Homo sapiens: one gene and its partners. The protein of the gene in region 1 purifies or fractionates together with the protein of each later gene. This does not show direct contact. Each region holds a gene or a part of one and is shown in the gene's direction. Other genes may lie near its edges.

Evidence for each region. Proteins that work in one complex are often made in the same cells at the same time.
Region 2: the proteins of SEMA3C (region 1) and SZRD1 purify together in Homo sapiens (co-immunoprecipitation; one large-scale study listed by IntAct). This does not show direct contact.
Region 3: the proteins of SEMA3C (region 1) and TTC38 purify together in Homo sapiens (affinity purification with mass spectrometry; one large-scale study listed by BioGRID and IntAct). This does not show direct contact.
Region 4: the proteins of SEMA3C (region 1) and RBM28 purify together in Homo sapiens (affinity purification with mass spectrometry; one large-scale study listed by BioGRID and IntAct). This does not show direct contact.

What each region holds. Positions count from the first base shown.
Region 1 is NC_000007.14:80,911,767-80,916,680, reverse strand, and holds part of SEMA3C (semaphorin-3C isoform 2 precursor), read left to right. Parts: coding exon 1-2; intron 3-4,914. UniProt on the Homo sapiens protein: Binds to plexin family members and plays an important role in the regulation of developmental processes. Required for normal cardiovascular development during embryogenesis.
Region 2 is NC_000001.11:16,393,870-16,398,783, forward strand, and holds the end of SZRD1 (SUZ RNA-binding domain-containing), read left to right. Parts: intron 1-1,168; coding exon 1,169-1,271; 3' UTR 1,272-4,276; downstream 4,277-4,914. Other genes in the region: SPATA21 (spermatogenesis-associated protein 21), read right to left, coding at 4,896-4,914.
Region 3 is NC_000022.11:46,265,831-46,271,349, forward strand, and holds the start of TTC38 (tetratricopeptide repeat protein 38), read left to right. Parts: upstream 1-2,177; 5' UTR 2,178-2,209; coding exon 2,210-2,242; intron 2,243-2,683; coding exon 2,684-2,761; intron 2,762-3,311; exon of another isoform or gene 3,312-3,459; intron 3,460-5,519.
Region 4 is NC_000007.14:128,336,867-128,341,780, reverse strand, and holds part of RBM28 (RNA-binding protein 28), read left to right. Parts: intron 1-1,989; coding exon 1,990-2,148; intron 2,149-2,459; coding exon 2,460-2,554; intron 2,555-2,979; coding exon 2,980-3,055; intron 3,056-3,438; coding exon 3,439-3,531; intron 3,532-4,578; coding exon 4,579-4,650; intron 4,651-4,914. UniProt on the Homo sapiens protein: Nucleolar component of the spliceosomal ribonucleoprotein complexes.

The sequences.
Region 1 (4,914 bases):
TGGTAAGAGAGTTGATAAACACTCTGGGAAAAATGTTATTTTAAGTTTTGTTATCTTCCTTATCCAGATTCAGAAATTAAGAGTATAAATATTACTGGATATTAATTTTAAAAATATTTACTGGGCTGCGTTTTGGAGGACAATAGCTATTTTAAATGATTGGTTAATAGACAAAGATCCTCTGTTGGATTTGAGGTATTTATGAAAATGCTTATAATATATGCTGCTTTTTGTAAAATAATTCTTCTGTGCTTGCCTGTGTACTCACAGAGGAGATGGGCACGAGCTCAAAGCCTAGCATCTTTGATCTTACTGTTCACCTGGTAATGTTAAGAAATTGCCCCTTTGTGCTAATCCTCAGCAGCAGAGAGAGCTATGCAGGTTCAATTACTAAAAAATTCTCCCAATTAATTTTTTGGGCATTAGTCTCAAAACTGGTTACTCCGTGTGTTGTTCTAATGGTGTTTCTTCTTTTTCCACAAGGATTTCCTGAGATTGGCATAGTCCCCTAATTAATTGAAAAGGACCTAAAAGAATAATTGGAAATATGCTTTTGATGGTTGTTGTATACAAATGTTCTCAGAAGCTTAGGGAAATGGGTGTGATTTCAGATTTTCACATACATAAAAGGTGCAAGGTCTTCTGAGGGAATGGTTTGCATGAGCTTTAATGTATATAGTTCAAAGGACTTACAGATGAATGAATTTGGTTAGTCAAGTAACCCATACTAATTGGACAGATGGAGCAAGACATGGATGAGGAACACCATCCTGCCAATCAAGGTCATTTATAATTTTATTACTTCTTTCAACTCTGCATAAACTTTAGTGTCATTGCAAGTACTTTTTCTTTCATTTGATAAACAATATATTCTCAGACCTTTCTATAGCAGAGTGTCTCTGAAACTTTGTCTCAAATTCCTTTTTTTTTTTTTTTTTTTGAGACAGTGTCTCACGCTGTCACCAGGTTGGAGTGCAGTGACACGATCTCGGCTCACTGCAGTCTCCACCTCCCAGGTTCAAGCCATTCTCCTTCCTCAGCCTACCCAGTAGCTGGGATTACAGGTGCGTGCCACCACACCGAGCTAATTTTTGTATTTTTAGTAGAGACGGAGTTTCACCATGTTGGCCAGGATGGTCTCGATCTCCTGACCTTGTGATCTGCCCGCCTCCGCCTCCCGAGGTGAGCCACCACGCCTGGCCTCAAATTTCAAATAGCAGAATGACTGACACTTGCCAGTCAAATGGCTGTCCTTTTTTTCTTTTTAAGTCACCAGTGCTTTCCCCAAGGTTGTCATAAGCACCGAAGGAGCCATATTTGGAACTTAGAATGTGTGAGCTTCTAATTGCTTCCTTAGCCTCCATGCAAGGCATTTCCCCTTAAAACCCATAGCTATGCAGTTAAGTTGTGAAGAATGGAAAAACAGACCCTTTGAGGTATCCTTTTTAGCCCCTTAATTACTAAAGCATCTTACAGACTACCCACACTTTTCCTCCCAAGTTAGAACTATGAAATACGTTTTCAAATAAAAGAGAAAGGGCATTAAGAAGTAGTGCAATTTCCCCTCTATTTTCTATATTTCTCCTAGTATATATAGAGATGGAGTGACCTAATAGATTAGATGTCTCTACCTGCTTTCTTTTCCATTACATGAAAATTAATCCAAACTAATGTAAATATCAACAAAAAGTGTGTTACTAGAGATAATGAACCAATTCTGTATTTGAAAAAGCAATTGCAATTCATATTTTACAGAAGGAAATTACATAGTATAATCTTTTAGAACCAGACTTCAGAACTGTGTAAGACAGTGACAGCTATGCTATACAGTGACTAGAAGTAATGATGGGATTTAAAATAATATATGCCTAATATTTTAAATGCACTCAAACTTAAAACAGATTCTTGCAGAATAAGACTTGCCTTGATTTGTAACTTATGTAGAATATGACATGAGTTGTTGATCTCAAAGTTCTATAATTCCTGATATTTTGTTCTTCTCAGGTGTATTACTGGTACTCTTAGGAAGTGAGAGAAAAACAGAGCAAATAATCAGAGAGATAGAAAATCACTTGTTTTGAATACTGTTTAAAAGAGATGTATCAACAGTGAGAATACATCTAATAAAATTGCACGATTGGTAACTCAATAATTTTAAACATTCCTACAATGAACTACATAGACAAGTTATAGGGAAAGTATCAGGCGAAAACAGTTGTCAAAATGTACAAATTTTAAACCTTGGTTCAATACAGTTTTCTTAGGAGATTTCACAGTGTACCTGCTTGAAATGCCTGTTCAAATTTATTATTATTTAAAGTTTCTCATTAGTCAAATGATGACTCATTGACTATTGTACCAAGTAGGTTTTTAAGTTTCCTCCAAAGTAGTTTATTCTCAACATCAAAATATAGAGCTTTGTATGGGGTTAATGTATTTAAGAGTATATATTTAAATACATGTGGCATATACTTCTAGTTCGTATTTCTAAAGTTCTATTACTGTTTTCCAATAAAAAATCAGCAACTGAAAGGTGTTTTGCAGAAATTCAGATAGTTTCAAGTTGTATTAGACAGAGGTCATTTGCATTACTTGTTTTATATCTCTAAGTACCTTTAGATTCTCTCGTAATTACTTTACCTACTGGCTCTTTTGTCTTGAATTCTTCTCCATCACTGTAACTTGGTCCTCTGCCTGTCTCTCTCTGGGTGGAACTTGAGAAGAAACCACTCAGTCTTGTGTTACTTCCGGTGCAATAAGCATCATAGGCAATTTCAAGGTGTGTAGAGCAATGAGTCTCTTCTCCCATTCATGTTCCATCCCTTTTTCTTGTGGTGAAATAATGGAGTAATAACATTTGTAAAACAGTGATTTACAGGTTTGCCTTCCCTGTTGATCTAGGGCAAGGTCAACCAGATGGTCATCAGTCCTGTGGGAGAATGTACTTCAGATGTTATTAATTAGTTACATTTGTGCTACTTAAATCTTCTATGTTGAGACCTGTGACTTCTAATATTTTCTTTTGTAATTGGTCTAACTCTTATTTTATGCCAAATAGCTTTGCAAGTGAATATAAGGTTCACACAAATGCTTTTAGTATAAGTTTTTCCTTAGTTAATATTGGCCAATCTTGCAGCCCATGGCTGAATTTACATTTGCATATGCATGACAGTGGTTTAAAAACAGAAAACTGAGTGTGAGTTTTGAATTGGAAATAGGTATTTTATGACTAAGCACTAGACTTGCATAGGATTACCTGTTTTTTCTTTTCCTTTTTTTTGAGACAGAGTCTCGCTCTGCCTCCCAGGCTGGAGTGCAATGGTGAGATCTTGGCTCACTGCAACCTCCACCTCCTGGGTTCAAGCAATTGTCCTGCCTCAGCCTCCCGAGTAGCTGGGATTACAGGTGTGCGACACCATGCCCAGCTAATTTTTGTACTTTTAGTAGAGACAGGGTTTCACCACGTTGGCCCGGCTGGTCTCGAACTCCTGACTTCAGGTGATCCGCCTGTCTCAGCCTCCCAAATTGTTGACATTACAGGCGTGAGCCACTGCGCCTGGCCCTGTTTTATTTATTTACTTTGTGATTCATTTTCCCTTTTGTGTGTGCTGAATTTTTAGTAATAAAGCTGCCAAAGTCTCCAGGTCTTTGATAGTATGTAAATGAAAGACTATGGAATTTTATAAAACATCTTTTAAAATCACCCTCAACAAATAAAAGAATCCCTGTGAACTAATGAACTAAGCCCCAAAGCTGATGAATTGTTATTGGACAATAAACTGAAAATAATAAATTGCCTCTTTATGAGCTCTGGTAGCATTAGCATTACAAGGCACGTTTGTTGAAATAGTTTTTGTTGTGGTTGCCCAAGAAATGAAAATAAAAGCAGTTGTTCTTGATTTCTCCGTTAATCTTGGAAGATGCTTACTCTGGGTGTATTGAATCTTCTCAGGTTTGTGTTACTGAGAAGTATTTAGTTCTCAGGTGTGTGTTATGGCATTTTCTTTTAAGTCTCCTTATGATGGTTTCAATTAAATGTCACTGAAATATCTTGAAGCACACATGAGTGTTTTAGTAAACCCAAACTCAAGGGGTGCTCTGTGAATAAAAAGTTCCTTCTACTCTCCCCCTTGTGAGAGTTTAATTGAACTCAGCAAAGGATTGATGAATTCACTTGTGAGTTGGACATTACCTGAAACATGAGTCTAGAATAGAGTAACACTAAATTTGTAAAGCAGCAAGGTAAAAACTGTTATAAAATACAATTGCAATGGAAGATGAGAAGAATTGCTAAGAAATGTAGCCTCGTATGTCTATTTTCCCCTGTAATATGTATTGATATAGGGCTCTGGTAATCAAAATAAAATAATATTTCTAGTAGACTTGAATTGGAGGGAGGAAATTTTATTTCAGGTATTGCAAAGAACATCTCTTGAAAATTTTAGGATAAAAGGTGTTACATTGATATGCTGTGGATTTCTCCTAGAGAAAAAATTTTAGAAAAATGTGTAAGCCTATATTTTCCTGTTTAAAAAAGTAATTACTGTTCCAGGTGAGTTTCATCAGATTATAATAAGCTTGATTCTGTTGCCAATAAATGATATTCTGTGTTAAGCCATTCAGAGTTACAAGGTTCCTACAATTGGGAGCAAAGAAGGAATGCTTTAGTGTTCTGAAGTTAGAAGAGTGAGCTTGAGTGTTTTGTTAATCGGTCATACGAACACAGCGGTTCCATTAAAAAAAAATGTGGTCGAGCACGGGGGCTCACGCCTGTAATCCTAGCACTTTGGGAGGCCAAGGCGGGTGGATCACGAGGTCAGGAGATCAAGATCATGCTGGCTATCGTGGTGATACCCCGTCTCTACTAAAAATACAAAAAATTAGCCAGGCATGGTGGTGGCCACCTGTAGTCCT
Region 2 (4,914 bases), on another chromosome or scaffold:
CCTTATCAAGGTGTTGTGCAATTCAGTGAGTAAATGAGCATAGGATGTGGAGAGCCTGGGCTGGCAGAGTGGAAAGTACCCCAGATAAGTGCTTTGATGATATTTTCTGGGTCTCCAGTATGCCCACTGTGATGTTTTTGTGAATTTTCTAAATTCCTTTTTACTCTTAACATTTTTTTCTCTGCAGTATTAAAGGTTGCATCATATAAGTTTATCACTTTCGAATCAAACAGTATTCATTAAGATGGCCTCCTTCTAACTTTGAGGGGCTGCTATGGTTTGGTATTCTGGGACTTGAAGAAAAAATCTGCGTACCTTCTTTCTAGCTCTTCATAATTTTGAAGAGATACCTGTTCTTTTTGTTGTTTCTCCTCTAAGTCTTCACCTTTCCAGGGTGGAAAAATAGTCATATGAGTCAACCGTTAACCGCAGAGTTTGGAGAGGAGTGGGAGGGAAGAATTGGGGGGCGGGGGATGTGTCCCTCTGCTGAGCTCTTGATTCCAGTTCTTTACTTTGGCCTAACACTCTGGAGATTCCAAATGGTTCTGCGGAGCATGTGCTATCCATGGTCACTGCCTCTGGGCAGAGTGGGCCCTCAAGCACTCCCCCTGCCTACAAGTGCATGATGGCAGCTGAGCAGGGGGAAAGGATGCTGTAGCTGCTAGAGGTGAATGTGCACCACCGACCCTGCCTGCTCACAGGGGCCTCTCAACTTGGAGGTGCCCTGAGTCAGCTTCCCAAAGAAGCAGGCTTGCGGAGCCAGAGTGACGTGGGCCCAGCTATATGGACAGTTGATTTTAAGATGGGGGACATCTAGGCCAGGTGCAGTAATCCCAGTACTTTGAGAGGCCGAGGTGGACGGATCACTTGAGGTCAGGAGTTCAAGACCAGCCTGGCCGACATGGTGAAACCCCATCTCTACTAAAATTACAAAAATTAGCTGGGTGTGGTAGCATATGCCTGTAGTCCCAGCTACTCGGTAGGCTGAGGTAGGAGGATCACTTGAACTCAGGAGGTGGGGGTTGCAGTGAGCGGAGATCGTGCCACTGCACTCCAATCTAGGTGACAGAATGAGACTCCGTCTCAAAAATAAATAAAAAATAAAGAAATGATGGGGGACATCTATTATATCCTTCTTCAGGCCTTCCTCTGCTTTTCTTCCTTTCAGGCCAACCAGGATCTCCCAACCCGAAGACAGCAGGCAGCCCAATAATGTGATCAGACAGCCTTTGGGTCCTGATGGGTCTCAAGGCTTCAAACAGCGCAGATAAATGCAGGCAAGAAAAGATGCCGCCGTTGCTGCCGTCACCGCCTCCTGGGTCGTCCGCCACGGGTTGCACTGCCGTGGCAGACAGCTGGACTTGAGCAGAGGGAACGACCTGACTTACTTGCACTGTGATCCCCCTTGCTCCGCCCACTGTGACCTTGAACCCCATGCACTGTGACCTCCCCCCTTCTCCCCCTTCCCACTGTGATTGGCACATCGACAAGGGCTGTCCCAAGTCAATGGAAAGGGAAAGGGTGGGGGTTAGGGGAAGGTTGGGGGGACCCAGCAAGGACTCAGAGAGTCAGACAGTGCCACTTGGCCACTTGGGGTAAAGCCAGTGCCAGCAATAACAGTTTATCATGCTCATTAATTTGGGATTTCAAAACACAAATGAAAACTCACACCCACCCACCCCCAAGTGCATGTCTCCATCACTTAAAAAGTAAGTTCCATTTGAAAATATCCTTTCTTTTTTTTTTCTTCCTATTTTTGTTTGTTTATACAAATATCTGATTTGCAAGAAAAAGTGCATGGGAGGGGTTTTAGTGGTTTAATGAATTTTTAATTAAGAAAGGGTAGTTTGGTAGTCTACTTAAAAATGTTTCTGGGAAATTCACTAGAAACATTAACCAATAGGATTTTGGTGAGCTTAGCTTCTGTATTCCTACTGCCGCCCAGAAAAGGGGCAGGGCTCTGCAGCCGCCAGGACAGACGAGCACCCCATGCCTATACCTCCCTCCCCGAGCTAAGTCCCAGGGCATCTGGGCCTTGCCTGGAGACTGGGCTAGCTCTGTAGGCTCGGAGAGCCTGGGGAGGGTGCCAACCCCACCTCTAGTATTTTGGGAGATAGGGAAAGTGAACCGACTTCCCCTTCCCATACCCCTCAGGGTGGTTCCCTACCAGCCAGGCTTACTACTTCTAGAAGAAAGCAGAGTGCCAGGGAGTGAGATTGCATCCCTGGGCTTAGAAGTGACGGAGAGAAGACTTGTTTAGTATTTTGCCATCAGCACAAGGAAAACCAGGAGAGAGTCTGCCTCCAGGACTCTGAGCCTTCTGCCTCGTATGTTCAGAAGGTGGATAGGTCTTCCCACTCCAGCATGGCTTGAACTCTTAGGGGTCTGCAGTGCTCCATCTCCATTGGTGGCCCCAGCTCAGTAACTATACCTGGTACATTTCCTGTGTGCAATCAGTACCTTGAAGGCAGAACATTCTGAATAAAGTTGGAAAAAGAACAGCTTTGCTTTGCAAAGATTGATGACAGACTGGTTCCTCAGAGGCCTAGGCTACCCGTCACCCCTTTTTCCAGAGCGAGGGCCTGGAATGAAGGCAGTTTATCCTCTGTCCCTGGAGCCTGGGGTTTGCTTTGGCTCCTTGAGGTGGAAGAGACTAAGAGGGCAGCTGCCCAGAGCAGCTGTGTGTACCTGGCTCCTCTCAGGCTTCCTGATCCCTTCCGTTGCACTGCGCCTTATCCCTCAGCCAGCCAGACAGCCTCCCTGCTCCTGACCAGCAGATACGTTTCGGAGTGGTTGGTGTGGTTTTTGTGATGAGGGCAGCACGTGGTGGCCAAGGTGGCAAGCTGAGTCTCACAGGCTCACTCCCTCGTTGGTTCCCTGTGGGAATGGTAGGCCAGGCCCAGTAAGCCATGCCCCAACACGTCCTCTCCTCCGGAGGAAGGGCCAGCTGCCAGCTGAGTCAGCAGCTAGTCCATAGCACAGCCTTATAACTGTAAAGCCAGGCATTGCCCATGAGCAGAGCTGGAACCAGAGCTTCAGTCAGTAAGAGGGAGGATTACCTTCAGGAGAAGGCAAGGAAGAAAACTGGCTGCTATCTTTATAGTTCCACTGCCCTAACCAAGTGTCCACATTCTAAATGTGTAGTGTCCATCCCTTATGTAATAGTGGTTTCCCGCCCAAAGTGAGACTTTCCTTTTAATTGGAGAAGGGTATAGAGGTAGTCCAGGTGGGAACGCCAGAAGTGCTGATTGCCCAGCCATTGGGACCACCTGTTCTTGCCCCACTACCCTCTAGTGGGAGGCCAAAGTAAAGGCTGGCTGGTGGGTGTCTGTGGATTGAGGATGTGGCAGGGACTGGTCCTCCCACCTCCCTCTGGCCAAAGATGGGCTTTGCCCGCTGTGTGCCTGTCACCACCCACCAGCAGTCATGCCCTGGGCTTCCCAAATGGAGAGGTAGCAGGCAACGTTTTTAAAAAGAAAGAAAACAGGAAACTGTATTGTGTCGGGGGAGGCGGGAGGGAGATGAGGAAACGGTTTGGATTTTGTGTGTGGGAGGGTATTTTTTGGGGGTAGTTGTCTGTAACTTTCCTAAGTGCTTTTTTTCCTTTTCTTTTTTAAAGTAAGTTGCAGGCTTTGGCTTGGAAAACCCCAGGGGGATGGGGGGCAGAAACCTGAGGCTGCTGCCCCTTTATCTGCCTTCACGGTACTGTCCCCTTCCCCCAGCTCCTCCCTGACCCCATGGGCCAGGCCTCAGACCTTCCAGCTAACCGCTTCCCATGAGCCACTACTCTGATGTCAGCCTATAACCAAAGGAGCTGGGGGGTCCAGGCCTGGTGACCAACCTTTCTCAGCCCACTCAATCAGGGTGCTCCCCACCTGCAGGCAGGAGGCAACACCCTATCTGCTACCATCAGCCCCTTCCAGAGCCCATCTGCCCCGCCCAGCCCTGCCCTGCCCAGCCATACCCTGCTCTGCCCCATCTGGGGGTGCCCTGCTCAGGGATGGGCTGGCAGGGCTGTACCCAGCCTCCCTGGTAAGCAGAGACTCAAGAAACCTCTGGGGTCCTGTTTTCTGGTCGTGTGATCCCAGGGGTGCACATGGGCCCCTTGGGTGTCTGAACAGAAGGGCATGGGAGGGAGGGCTGCACCCCTGCAGTCTTACTCTGCTGGTGTAGCGGGCAGCTGCCCACTCCCACCCCACCCTGCACCGCGGGCTCCTGAGTCGGCAGATTAAGCATTTTATAAATTGTATTTTAAATACATGTTTTAAACTTGTCAGATCTTTGTCCTCATTTCAGTCCCTGCCCTCTACCTCTTGCTGTGGCCGCTTATTTAACCCTGGGGGATTTCCCTCTGCCCAGTCCCAGGGAAAGACTGTCTTTGGTAAAACACGAGGCCGGGTGGTATGTGGGTTGAGGGGAAAGGACCCACCCCTCTTGGGGCTCCCAGAGAATGAGAGCCCTGGGTCCTGGGGCTCTGTCGGGGGAGCATGCAGAGGCCACCTCCTGCTCTTCCACAGGGCCTGTCTTAGAGCCAGTGGAGAGAGAGAATGGCTGCTTTTGTGGGGCTCCCAGTCCAGAGGGGGATGTGCTCACCTGAGGAGAGGCCTAGCCCTGTGCTTTGAGAAGGCACAGAAGGTCAAGACTGCACGCAGGGGCACCTGTAGCAGAAATCCCAACCCCGCGCAGGGCTTTGAGGTGGAACCCTGCACTCTGAGAGCCCAGTGGTGGCTGGGTGACAACTTGAGGGCCTTTCTTGGCAAGAGGCACAGAGGCTGAAGTTATTGGTGTTTATTAGCTCACCAGGCCACAAAAGCAAATCCCAGCAGCAGCTCCTGCCTGGTGGCCCATCTGTCTACAGGCCTTGAGCAGCTGCCTAGAGTCAGGCCTCCAGAGGGTCAGTGGGTTCGAGCTGGC
Region 3 (5,519 bases), on another chromosome or scaffold:
AGACGTCTGACATGCCCTGGAGACCTTTTCCCCATTGTCTTGGGGATTAACATTTGGCTGCTTGTTATTTATACAAATTTCTGCAGCTGGTTTGAATTCTCCTCAGAAAATGGAATTTTCTATCACATTTTCGGTCTGCAAATTTTTCAAACTTTTATGCTCTGTTTCCCTTTTAAAACCGAATGCTTTTAACAGCATCCAAGTCACTTCTTGAATGCTTTGCTGCTTAGAAATTTCTTCTGCCAGATACCCTAAATCATCTCTTTCAAGTTCAAAGTCCCACAAATCTCTAGGGCAGGGGCAAAATGCTGCCAGTCTCTTTGCTAAAACATAACAAGCATCACCTTTGCTCCAGTTCCTCATCCCCATCTGAGACCACCTCAGCCTGTACCTTATTGTCCATATCACTATCAGCATTTTGGGCAAAGCCATTCAACAAGTATCTGGGAAGTTCCAAAATTTCCCACATACTCCTGTCTTCTGAGCCCTCCAAACTGTTCCAACCTCTGCCTGTTACCCAGTTCCAAAGTTGCTTCCACATTTTCAGGTATATTTTTGGCAACACCCCACTCTAATGGTACCAATTTACTGTATTAGTCCATATTAGTACTCAGCTCAAGTGCAAAATTTAAGGGTGGAGGGGCACCAAAAACTCAATAATCAAGACAAATTCTCTTTTATTGAGGTAAAGTTCACATAAAAGTAACCATTTATGGGAGGCTGAGGTGGGAGGATTGCTGGAGCCAGGAGTTCAAGGCTTCAGTGACTTATCATCCCTATCCCCTCAGTCCCTGGTCACCACCAATCTTCTTTCTGTCTCTATGTTTGCGTATTCTGGACATGCATGTAAATGCACTAATACAAGTGTTACCTTTTGTGTCTGCCTCTTCCTTCAGTATGAATGAACCTTGAAAACGCTGTAGGAAAGGTGTGTCTTCTTTGGAGAACTGTCACCTCAAATTCTTTGCCCACTTTAAATTTGGGCTGTTTGTCATTTCGCTGTTGAGTTGTAAGAATTCTTTTTTTTTGAGACAGAGTCTGGCTCTGTTGCCCAGGTTGGAGTGCAGTGGCACAATCTTGGCTTACTCCAACCTCCACTTCCCGGGTTCAAGCGATTCTCCTGCCTCAGCCACCCAAGTAGTTGGGATTACAGGCATGCACCACCACGCCTGGCTATTTTTGTACTTTTAATAGAGATAAGGTTTCACCATGTTGGCCAGGCTGGTCTTGAACTCCTGACCTCAGGTGATCCACCTGACTCAGCCTCCCAAAGGGCTGGGATTACAGACATGAGCTGCTGTGCCCGGCCAAGATTTCTTTATGTATTCTGGATTCTAGACTCTTACCCAATATATGATTTACAAATGTTTTTTCCCATTGTGTTAATCTTTTCAGTTTCCTGAGTAGTGTCCTTTGATTCAGAAAAGTTTTTAATTTTGACGAAGTCCAACTTATCTATTTTGTTGTTGTTGCTTGTCCTTTTGGTGTTACATCTAAGAATCCATTGCTAAATCCAAGGCCATGAAGATTTACTTCTGTTTTCTTCTAAGAGTTTTATCTTTACAGCTCTCACATAAAACAAATAATACTTCAGTGCAATATTTCAAAAATCAAAACTAATGCAAAAAGTCCATGATGAACAAAATAGCATTTTAAATAAAGGCCAGATCTGCCCGTGCACTTGGTTCTACGCCCTTGATTCGTGCACCCTGGGGCGGGGGCAAATTAAACTAGGGGAGCCCATTGGACTGGGGCTGGTGTGTGGCTGATGGCAGAGTTCAGGCCGGGCCAGACCGGGCCAGTCCAGAGGGAGAAGCCGCTACTGCAGGAGACAGAGCGATTTTTCCGCTGCAAATCCTTGAGAAGGGAGGATGGAGGCGGCGGGACGACCCAGTGAAGCCGGCCCCGAACGCCAAGTGAGTGTGTGCCGTGCGCGCGCGGGTAGCTGCCGACCGCAACGACATAAACTTGAAAGTGACCGCTGTCCCGGAGCTCCCTGCTCCCAAGGGACCCGTCGCGTTGCAGAGTTGTCCGGTCGGGCCTCTGGGGCGGGCCCGGATCCTGGACCAGGGCCAGTCTGTCCGAAACCCACCAGTGAGCGAGCGGGAGAGCGCGGCCGCCCCGCCCCGCCCCTTTCCGCGACCGCCCCGCCCACTCCCAGGAAGGCCCGGGTGCCCAGAGCTCGCGGTGGACTCCGACCCGGCGCAACATGGCCGCAGCCTCGCCTCTGCGCGACTGCCAGGTACACGGAGGCTGCCCCCAACCAGGTCCCCCTCGGGCCCCGGGTCCTGGGGGTGGCCCGGTGCTGGCGGAATAACGGGAGACATGGCCCGGGCGCGGGGCGTGGGGTGAGCCCTGGGCGCACGGGCGCGTCCGCGGCAACGCCTGGAAGGGACCCGAGGCCCTTCTTGTAGAGTCCCCACCGAGGGAAATAAGGGACGCCTGTCAGGGTACTCGGGAGACCCCAAGACCTCCTAAAAAACGTAGCTCACTGGGCATGGCTGGGGACGCAGGGAAGCCCGCAAAGGTAAGGGGCTCCTTGGAACCGGCCCAGGACTGGGAGCCTGAGCCCATTTTACAGATGAGGAAGGTGGAGGTCAGAGGGGCCAGGAGACGTGTGTGTGTTGAAGTTTGAAGGGCTCCTGGAGAGAAGGCACTGCTATTCCCTTCTTGCCGTCTGTAGGCCTGGAAGGATGCGAGGCTCCCGCTCTCCACCACAAGCAACGAAGCCTGCAAGCTGTTCGATGCCACGCTGACCCAGGTATGCCTGCCGAGAGAGGCCGCGGCCCCTTCTGTGGAGGTCTAGGGGAAGGTTTTTTAATTGGGGAAAGCTGTTTTTTTGTTTTGTTTTGTTTTGTTTTGTTTTGTTTTTGAGGCGGAGTCTCGCTCTGTCGCCCAGGCTGGAGTGCAGTGGCGCTATTTCGGCTCACTGCAAGCTTTGCCTCCCGGGTTCACGCCATTCTCGTCCCTCAGCCTCCCGAGTAGCTGGGACTACAGGCGCCCGCCACTGCCCTCGACTAATTTTTTTTGTATTTTTTAGTAGAGACGGGGTTTCACCGTGTTAGCCAGGATGGTCTCGATCTCCTGACCTCGTGATCCGCCCGCCTCGGCCTCCCAAAGTGCTGGGATTACAGGCGTGAGCCACCGCGCCCGGCCATGGGGAAAGCTTTTTAAATTGCGCCATGACCTTAGCAATAGATGGCAGCACATCTGTGCACTTTGTACTGGAGGACGTGGGAGGGTGGGGACATATCTCTGCCCCCCCCCCACAGCGTCCTAAAAGGGCCTCTGCACTCTCCCTTCTTCCCCAGGACTCTGAGTGGTGGGTGGACAGCGGTGGGTGCAGTGGGGATGTTTTTTGAGGATGCTGGCCTCCCCGGGCCTCCCATTGTGGCCTGCTGAGGGTCTGATGCAGGGCTCGGCTGCTTAGGACGTGGGATCCTGTCCTGGGATGAATCTGTGAGTATACTGCCTTCACCTAGGCTGTGCCAAGACCTTCTGCCACATTACCAGTCATTTCTCTACCAATGAAGGGTCCTATAGTTTTAGAACTAGGAGAAGTCTCAGAAGTAAGATCCAACTAGCTTCCTTGACAAGTGGGGAAACTGAGGCTCAGAGTTGAACCTACTTGACTTGAAGGTTGTCCATGAATTACAGGCAGAACCAGGATGAACCTGGGCCTAACTGCACTGATAGAAACCTAAGCTGACCTTGGCGTGGGTGGTGAGGCCCCTGCATACTGACTTCATCCACATAACAGGAGGACTCAGGTAGCTCTTAGAAGCCTACGGGCTGAACAAGAGAGGACTGATGGAATGCTGTGAGCTGCGCCATGGGTGCCTCTCCTGTTCCCAGCCTGCCCTGCCAAGGGACTCTGCTGTGGGCATCTGAGTTGTTTGTTTATTTTGTGTTTGACCTGGCTCACTTGCCCTTCCTGTATCTCGCCGGCCTCTGTAGAGTACTCGATTTGTTTTTTGTTTGAGACGGAGTCTTGCCCTGTCACCCAGGCTGGAGTGCAATGGCGCAGTCTTGACTCACTGCAAACTCTGCCTCTCGGGTTCAAGCGATTGCCCTGCCTCAGCCTCCGAAGTAGCTGGGATTATAGGCACGCACCATCATACCCAGCTGATTTTTTGTATCTTTAGTAGAGACGGGGTTTCACCATGTTGGTCAGGATGGTCACAAACTCCTGACCTTGTGATTCCCCTGCCTTGGCCTCTCAAAGTGCTGGGATTACAGGCGTGAGCCACTGTGCCCGGCCCCTAGTACTCAGTTTGTTACACACCACATCCCCAATCAGTGGCAGCTCATCCTCCCAGCCTGGGTATATTTTGTCCCGTGTATTGGTGTCTCTGTGCTGTCCTGTGTTAGAACTTGGCTTCTTTAAATCTCTGTGCCAACCCTCCTGTATCTTGTCAAAATGCTTGCGTAGCTTATAGTCTCAGCTATTTGGGAGGCTGAGGCAGGGGGATTGCTTGAGCCTGGGCGGTTGAGACTGAAGTGAGCTGTGATTGTGCCACTGTACTCCATCCTGGGCAACAGAGCAAACCCTGTCTTAAAAAAAAAATACACGTACTAATTCTGTGTAGATGTAGGTTAGACAGCTGAAAGGGCATATTTTAAAATCTAATGTGTGATTATAGGTCTAGGACTTTTTTTAAAACAGGCATTTGAGTAAAGGACCAGGTACAAATACAGCAAATTGTTAAAAATGATGATGCGCTGGGCGCGGTGACTCACGCCTGTAATCCCAGCACTTTGGGAGGCTGAGGCAGGTGGATCATCTGAGGTCAGGAGTTCAACACCAGCCTGGCCAACATGGTGAAACCCTGTCTCTACTAAAAATATAAAAAAATTAGCCGGGCATGGTGGCATGGGCCTGTAATCCCAGCTACTCGGGAGGCTGAGGCAGAGGAATTCTTGAACCAGGGAGGTGGAGGTTGTAGTGAGCTGAGATAGTGCCACTGCCTTCCAGCCTGGGTGACAGGGCAAGACTCCATCTCAAAAAAGAAAAAAAAAAAATTAGCCGGGCGCAGTGGTGCACACCTGTAATCCCAGCTACTAAGGAGGGATTCTCCTACCAAGGCAGGAGAATTGCTTGAAACCTGGAGGCAGAGGTTGCAGTGAGCCAAGATCGTGCCATTGCACTCCAGCCTGGGTGACAGGGCAAGATTCTGTCTCAATTAAAAAAAAAATGATAAAATGAGCTTTGGGTAAGTTTTATCTTTCAGCTTTTGTGTCTTTCTAACTCTCTAAAATAAATGTTTTCTGTGAATATTTTTAAAACGAATGAATAAGAAGCAGGAATATTCCTATCGTGACCAACTTCAGGGCTCCTCTTAGGGCAGAAGAAGCCGATGTGGAGCAGGTCACCTGTCAGGAGGAACCTGCCTTTTCTTTCTTTTCTTTTTTCTTTTTTTTCTTTTTTGAGACAGAGTCTCACTCTGTCGCCCAGGCTGGAGTGCAGTGGCGCCTGGGTTCACGCCATTCTCCTGCCTCAGCCTCCCGAGTAGCTGGGA
Region 4 (4,914 bases), about 47 Mb from region 1:
TTCCAGTGTAAGTAGCATTCCGTACCCAGGTGGTTGTATTCCAGGGAAGAATAGGCCATTGAATGGGAGTTCTCCTTTGAGTCCTCAGAATATAGGCTACATGCAATCTTACCTTACACCTTGTGTACTTGGTCTAAATCCTTAAAAATCTCTTACTTCCTTTTAAAAAACTATGCACTTTCCTATCCAGACAGCTGATATGTACTGGAAAGAGTGCTGCACTCAGTGAAACGGGAGGGAGGGTATGTGGAATGAAGTCTTCCTCAATAGCAGTGCATGTCACTTCACCTCTTTAAGATGGGAATAATTTCACAGGGTTGTCAGGGACTCTAAATGTATGTGAGCATGCTTTATGCAGACATGTAAAATGTGTGGTATTTACTGTATGTCCTTTCATTTGGGTGTCAAACTCTTTTACATTTCAGCTGCTTTACTTTTGGTTGTACTGATCATGAAGGGCTATGAATTTTCTTGTGCTCATTTTCTGAAAGGTGAGTGGGCAGCTTTTATGATAAGGAGTTCAAGAGAAGAGAAAAATTGATGTTATGTTGCTTTAACCAGTTTATGTAGATCAGTGTCCTGTGTCAAAGGGCTTATACCCTGAAGGAGATTCAAATGCAGTGGAAAGAGAAGCAGAGCATATGAACTATGTGTCCTTTTCAGGTAAAGGCAGACTTCTTGATCTGTCCTTTTCCTTTTTGATGCAATAAATTATTTAAAATTTTACTATACAAAATGTTAAACCAAAAAGGGCAAAGGTGGGTTACAGTTGATATTTGTAGTTTTCATCTCCTTGGTCCTAATATTATTCTTTGTGGAGTCCTATGGAAGAACATGGGGGCTGGTGAGGAGGAGTTAATTCAGCTACTAACACCCTGTGTGACATTAACCAATTCACTTACTGTCTTCCATCTCAAATTACTTACTTGGAAAGAAGGGGTGATAATATTTGCTTTACCTATTTTGAGGTGTTCTAAAGATAAAATGAGACAAGAATGCACAGCTGCTTTGGAAAGGTTTAATTTGATATCGACAGCTAAGGCGTTGGTAATAGTGGTCATAACATCTGCAGTCTCTCTGAGCAGTATTTATTGTTTGAGGTTCTTTTGTCTGGGCCTCAGGCATTTATTGCTGATCTATTTTGAGGAGTAACTGCATTATTGTGTTCTGATTTTTGAAGCTACCATACTGTCTTAATTCATTTTCTGTTGCTTATAAGAGAATACCTGAAACTAGGTACTTTGTAAAGAAAAATTTATTTCTTAAGTTCTGGAGGCTGAGAAGTCCAAAGTTTAGTGGCTGTATCTGGTGAGAGCCTTCTTGTTGGTGGGGACTCTGCAAAATGCCCAGACAGTGCAGGGTGTCATGGCGAGGGGGCTGAGCATGCTAATGTGCTTGCTCAGGTCTCTCTTCCTCTTCTTATAAAGCCCCCAGCTCCACTCTCATGATAGCCCATTAATCTATTAACCCATTAATCCATAAATTGATTAATCCATTCCTGAAGACAGAGTCCTCTGATCCAGTCACCTCTTAAAGACTCCACCTTTCAATACTGCTACATTGGGGATTAAGTTTCCAACACATGAAATTTGGGGGACACATTCAAACCATAGCATATACTTACCTTTCCTGCCTTCTTTGGTGATGTTTTGTTCTTTTTGATGTTGAGTTCTTTGAGGGCCTCATATGTCATGGATTCTCTGTTTTCTTGGGATTATCAAGAAAGGGGGAAGAAGGGGAGCTAACAGCAAAGACACTAAATTAAAAGAGGAGGAAGGCTAACAGTTTCTAAGCAAAGTGGGGAGGGAACCACTGATACCACCCTTGTTTCTCGCCCTCCTGAGACTTTTGGCAAACTGATAGCAAGATGGGTTGGCAGTATATCCTCTAGCTTAGGCTTTGAGGATTTACTCATTTAGTGCTCTTGGCTTATGATTCTCTCTCCTTTTCACACTGCCCCTCCACTCCCTCCCCACTCCATTATTCCAGGGAGTAAGGCATGTCGAGGCTTTGGCTATGTCACTTTTTCAATGCTGGAAGATGTTCAGAGGGCCCTCAAGGAGATTACCACCTTTGAAGGTTGCAAGATCAACGTGACTGTTGCCAAGAAAAAACTGAGGAACAAGACAAAGGAAAAGGGGAAAAATGGTGAGTTTCTAGTAATTGAAGGAAGTTTTTCTCCCAGGGTGAGGAGGAGCACTATGAAAATGAAAGAGGGAGGCATGGAGGTAGCTTCTAGAACTTAAAGCTTTTTGCATTTCTTTTTGATCTCCAAAATCATCCAGTGTATTGTGATACTCATTTTAGTTCTTTGGAAAAATCTGGTATTCCTTGGTATTATTGCCACACTTAACCCTGTGGTAAATGCCATCTGTCGCCAGTAGCTTTTTTTTCTGTGATGTTCTGGCGTAGAAGTGGGTGATTTTCGAGTACTTATTCCATTACCTCTTATTTTTTAGAAAACTCAGAGTGCCCAAAGAAGGAGCCGAAGGCTAAAAAAGCCAAAGTGGCAGATAAGAAAGCCAGATTAATTATTCGGAACCTGAGCTTTAAGGTAAGTGAGAGAGAAAATGAACATTGCATGTTTTGAAGGCTTTTAGAGCCAAGATGTGATCATTAGTAGAACTCCTCACCAAGATGGTATAATTGGGCTTAATTCCTTCTGGGAATCAACCTTACCCCTGTTGAATTCAGAAAGTGGGCCTGTGTAATAAGGGCACTAAGTGTGAAGCTGCTTTCCTTTTTGGGGAAACTACTACTGAGAAAGAAAAGGTAGAAAAAGTTCTCAGACGTCTGTGTTTTTGCCTCTTAGGTACAAAGTAAAATGTCTTCTATTTAGAAACATTTGATGTCCTAGTATCAAAAATAAAAAAAAGTAAACATTCATGTTTTTCATAATTAATGAATTTAGTAGTTGATGTTTTATGTTAATTTGCTGTGATTGTGTTTCTCTTTTTCTTTCTTCACTTTTGGCTTCAGTGTTCAGAAGATGACTTGAAGACAGTATTTGCTCAATTTGGAGCTGTCCTGGAAGTAAATATCCCTAGGAAACCAGGTACTAATAAACCTTCACTTGGTGTGGATTACGTTAGTTAACATATTACCCTTGAACAAACATATATGATATATATGAAGTATTTGGCACAGTGCTTCACATCTAATGAAAACCCAAATAATGGTTTTATTCCCCTGATGATATTTTCTGTTGGATCAGAATTAGTTTTAGAAGGCGAGTTAGTTTGAGAAAGTGTTTTGCTCTCCCCAAGTCCAAGTCAGAGTATACTCAGTAAGAAGATGTAAGCAATTGCTTTGGGGAAGGGCCTGACCTGCTGGCAGAATTTGGGCCATCTTGTGGGCCTGAATTGCAGTAATTTACTTCTTAGTATTCTGGCTACCTCCTGCTGCCTCTCACTTCTTTCTTTGTGCATTTGCACACAGATGGGAAGATGCGCGGTTTTGGTTTTGTTCAGTTCAAAAACCTCCTAGAAGCAGGTAAAGCTCTCAAAGGCATGAACATGAAAGAGATAAAAGGTAAGCTTTCTATACCCATATCATTGACCCAGATATTTCTGGTGTTTTGGTGAATTAGTGTAGTAACCCACTTTCTGCATTTTCAAAAGATGTTTGCATTATTAAGAGTCTCATTGCTAATACGGTAGCTATTTAGGTGAAATACTCTAGAACTTGATCTTGGGGTTAAACTTGAAAGAACCCTTGCCAGTATTCTTTCTTTTATCTGGTGAGAGTGTCCTTTTAAATCCCTAGTGAAAAATGTCCCTGAGATAATTGCTGATAGATGCAGGTTGGTATCTAGATTCCTCCTTGGTTATATCACTGTTCAGCATCTGTGGGCTATTTATTAAACTGACTGTGATTTATATATTGACTTATCAAGTACTGTGCCTAAAGAAGTTATTGCCGGCCAGGTGCGGTGGCTCACACCTGTAATCCTAGCACTTTGGGAGGCCGAGGAGGCAGGTGGATCACCTGAGGTCAGGAGTTCAAGACCAGCCTGGTCAACATGGCGAAACCCCGTCTCTACTGAAAATACAAAAATTAGCCAGGTGTGGTGGTGCATGCTTGTAATCCCAGCTACTCAAGAGGCTGAGGCAGGAGAATCGCTTGAACCTGGAGGCGGAGGTTGCAGTGAACTGAGATGGCACCACTGCACTCCAGCCTGGGCGACAGAGCGAGACTGTGTCTCAAAAAAAAAAAAAAGAAGTTATTGCCGTAGAGATGTCCTAGCTTCCAGGTAGGGTGCAGATGATTCCAGAATGCCTGTTTTGATTCCTGATAGTCTAACTGGAAACATAGTTCTAATTCTTTATTTTTTTACTCCATCTTATCCCAGGTGTGGTGGCTATGTAGAAAGGCAAAATTTCTGTTCATTGATAAAAAGGTTAAGGGTTAAAAGGAGTAGGCAGTGACTAGGAGCTTTATTTTAAGACCAGCATTCCCTGAATTGGCAGTTTCTTTGTCTCCACTGGTTCCATTATTGTCTGTGATGACTAGGGGTCATTTACAGAGGTAGGGTTTTTAAAAGGAGAGCCTTTCTGATGCCACTTTTCTGCTTGACAGGCCGGACAGTGGCTGTGGATTGGGCCGTGGCAAAGGATAAATATAAAGATACACAGTCTGTTTCTGCTATAGGTAAGATGTGGTAGTGTTGGGTGAGTAGGGGCGTTGTATAACCTGGGTGAGAGTATTGAAACAACTCCTGTGTTCATGATAAAAGTGTAAGAAAAAGGCTGGGTGCAGTGGCTCTTGCCTGTAATTCCAGCACTTTGGGTGGATTGCTTGCAGTCAGGAGTTTGAGACCAGCCTGGCCAACATGCAAAACCCCATCTCTACTAAAAATACAAAAATTAGCTGGGCTTGGTGGTGGGCGCCTGTCATCCCACCTGCTTGGGAGGC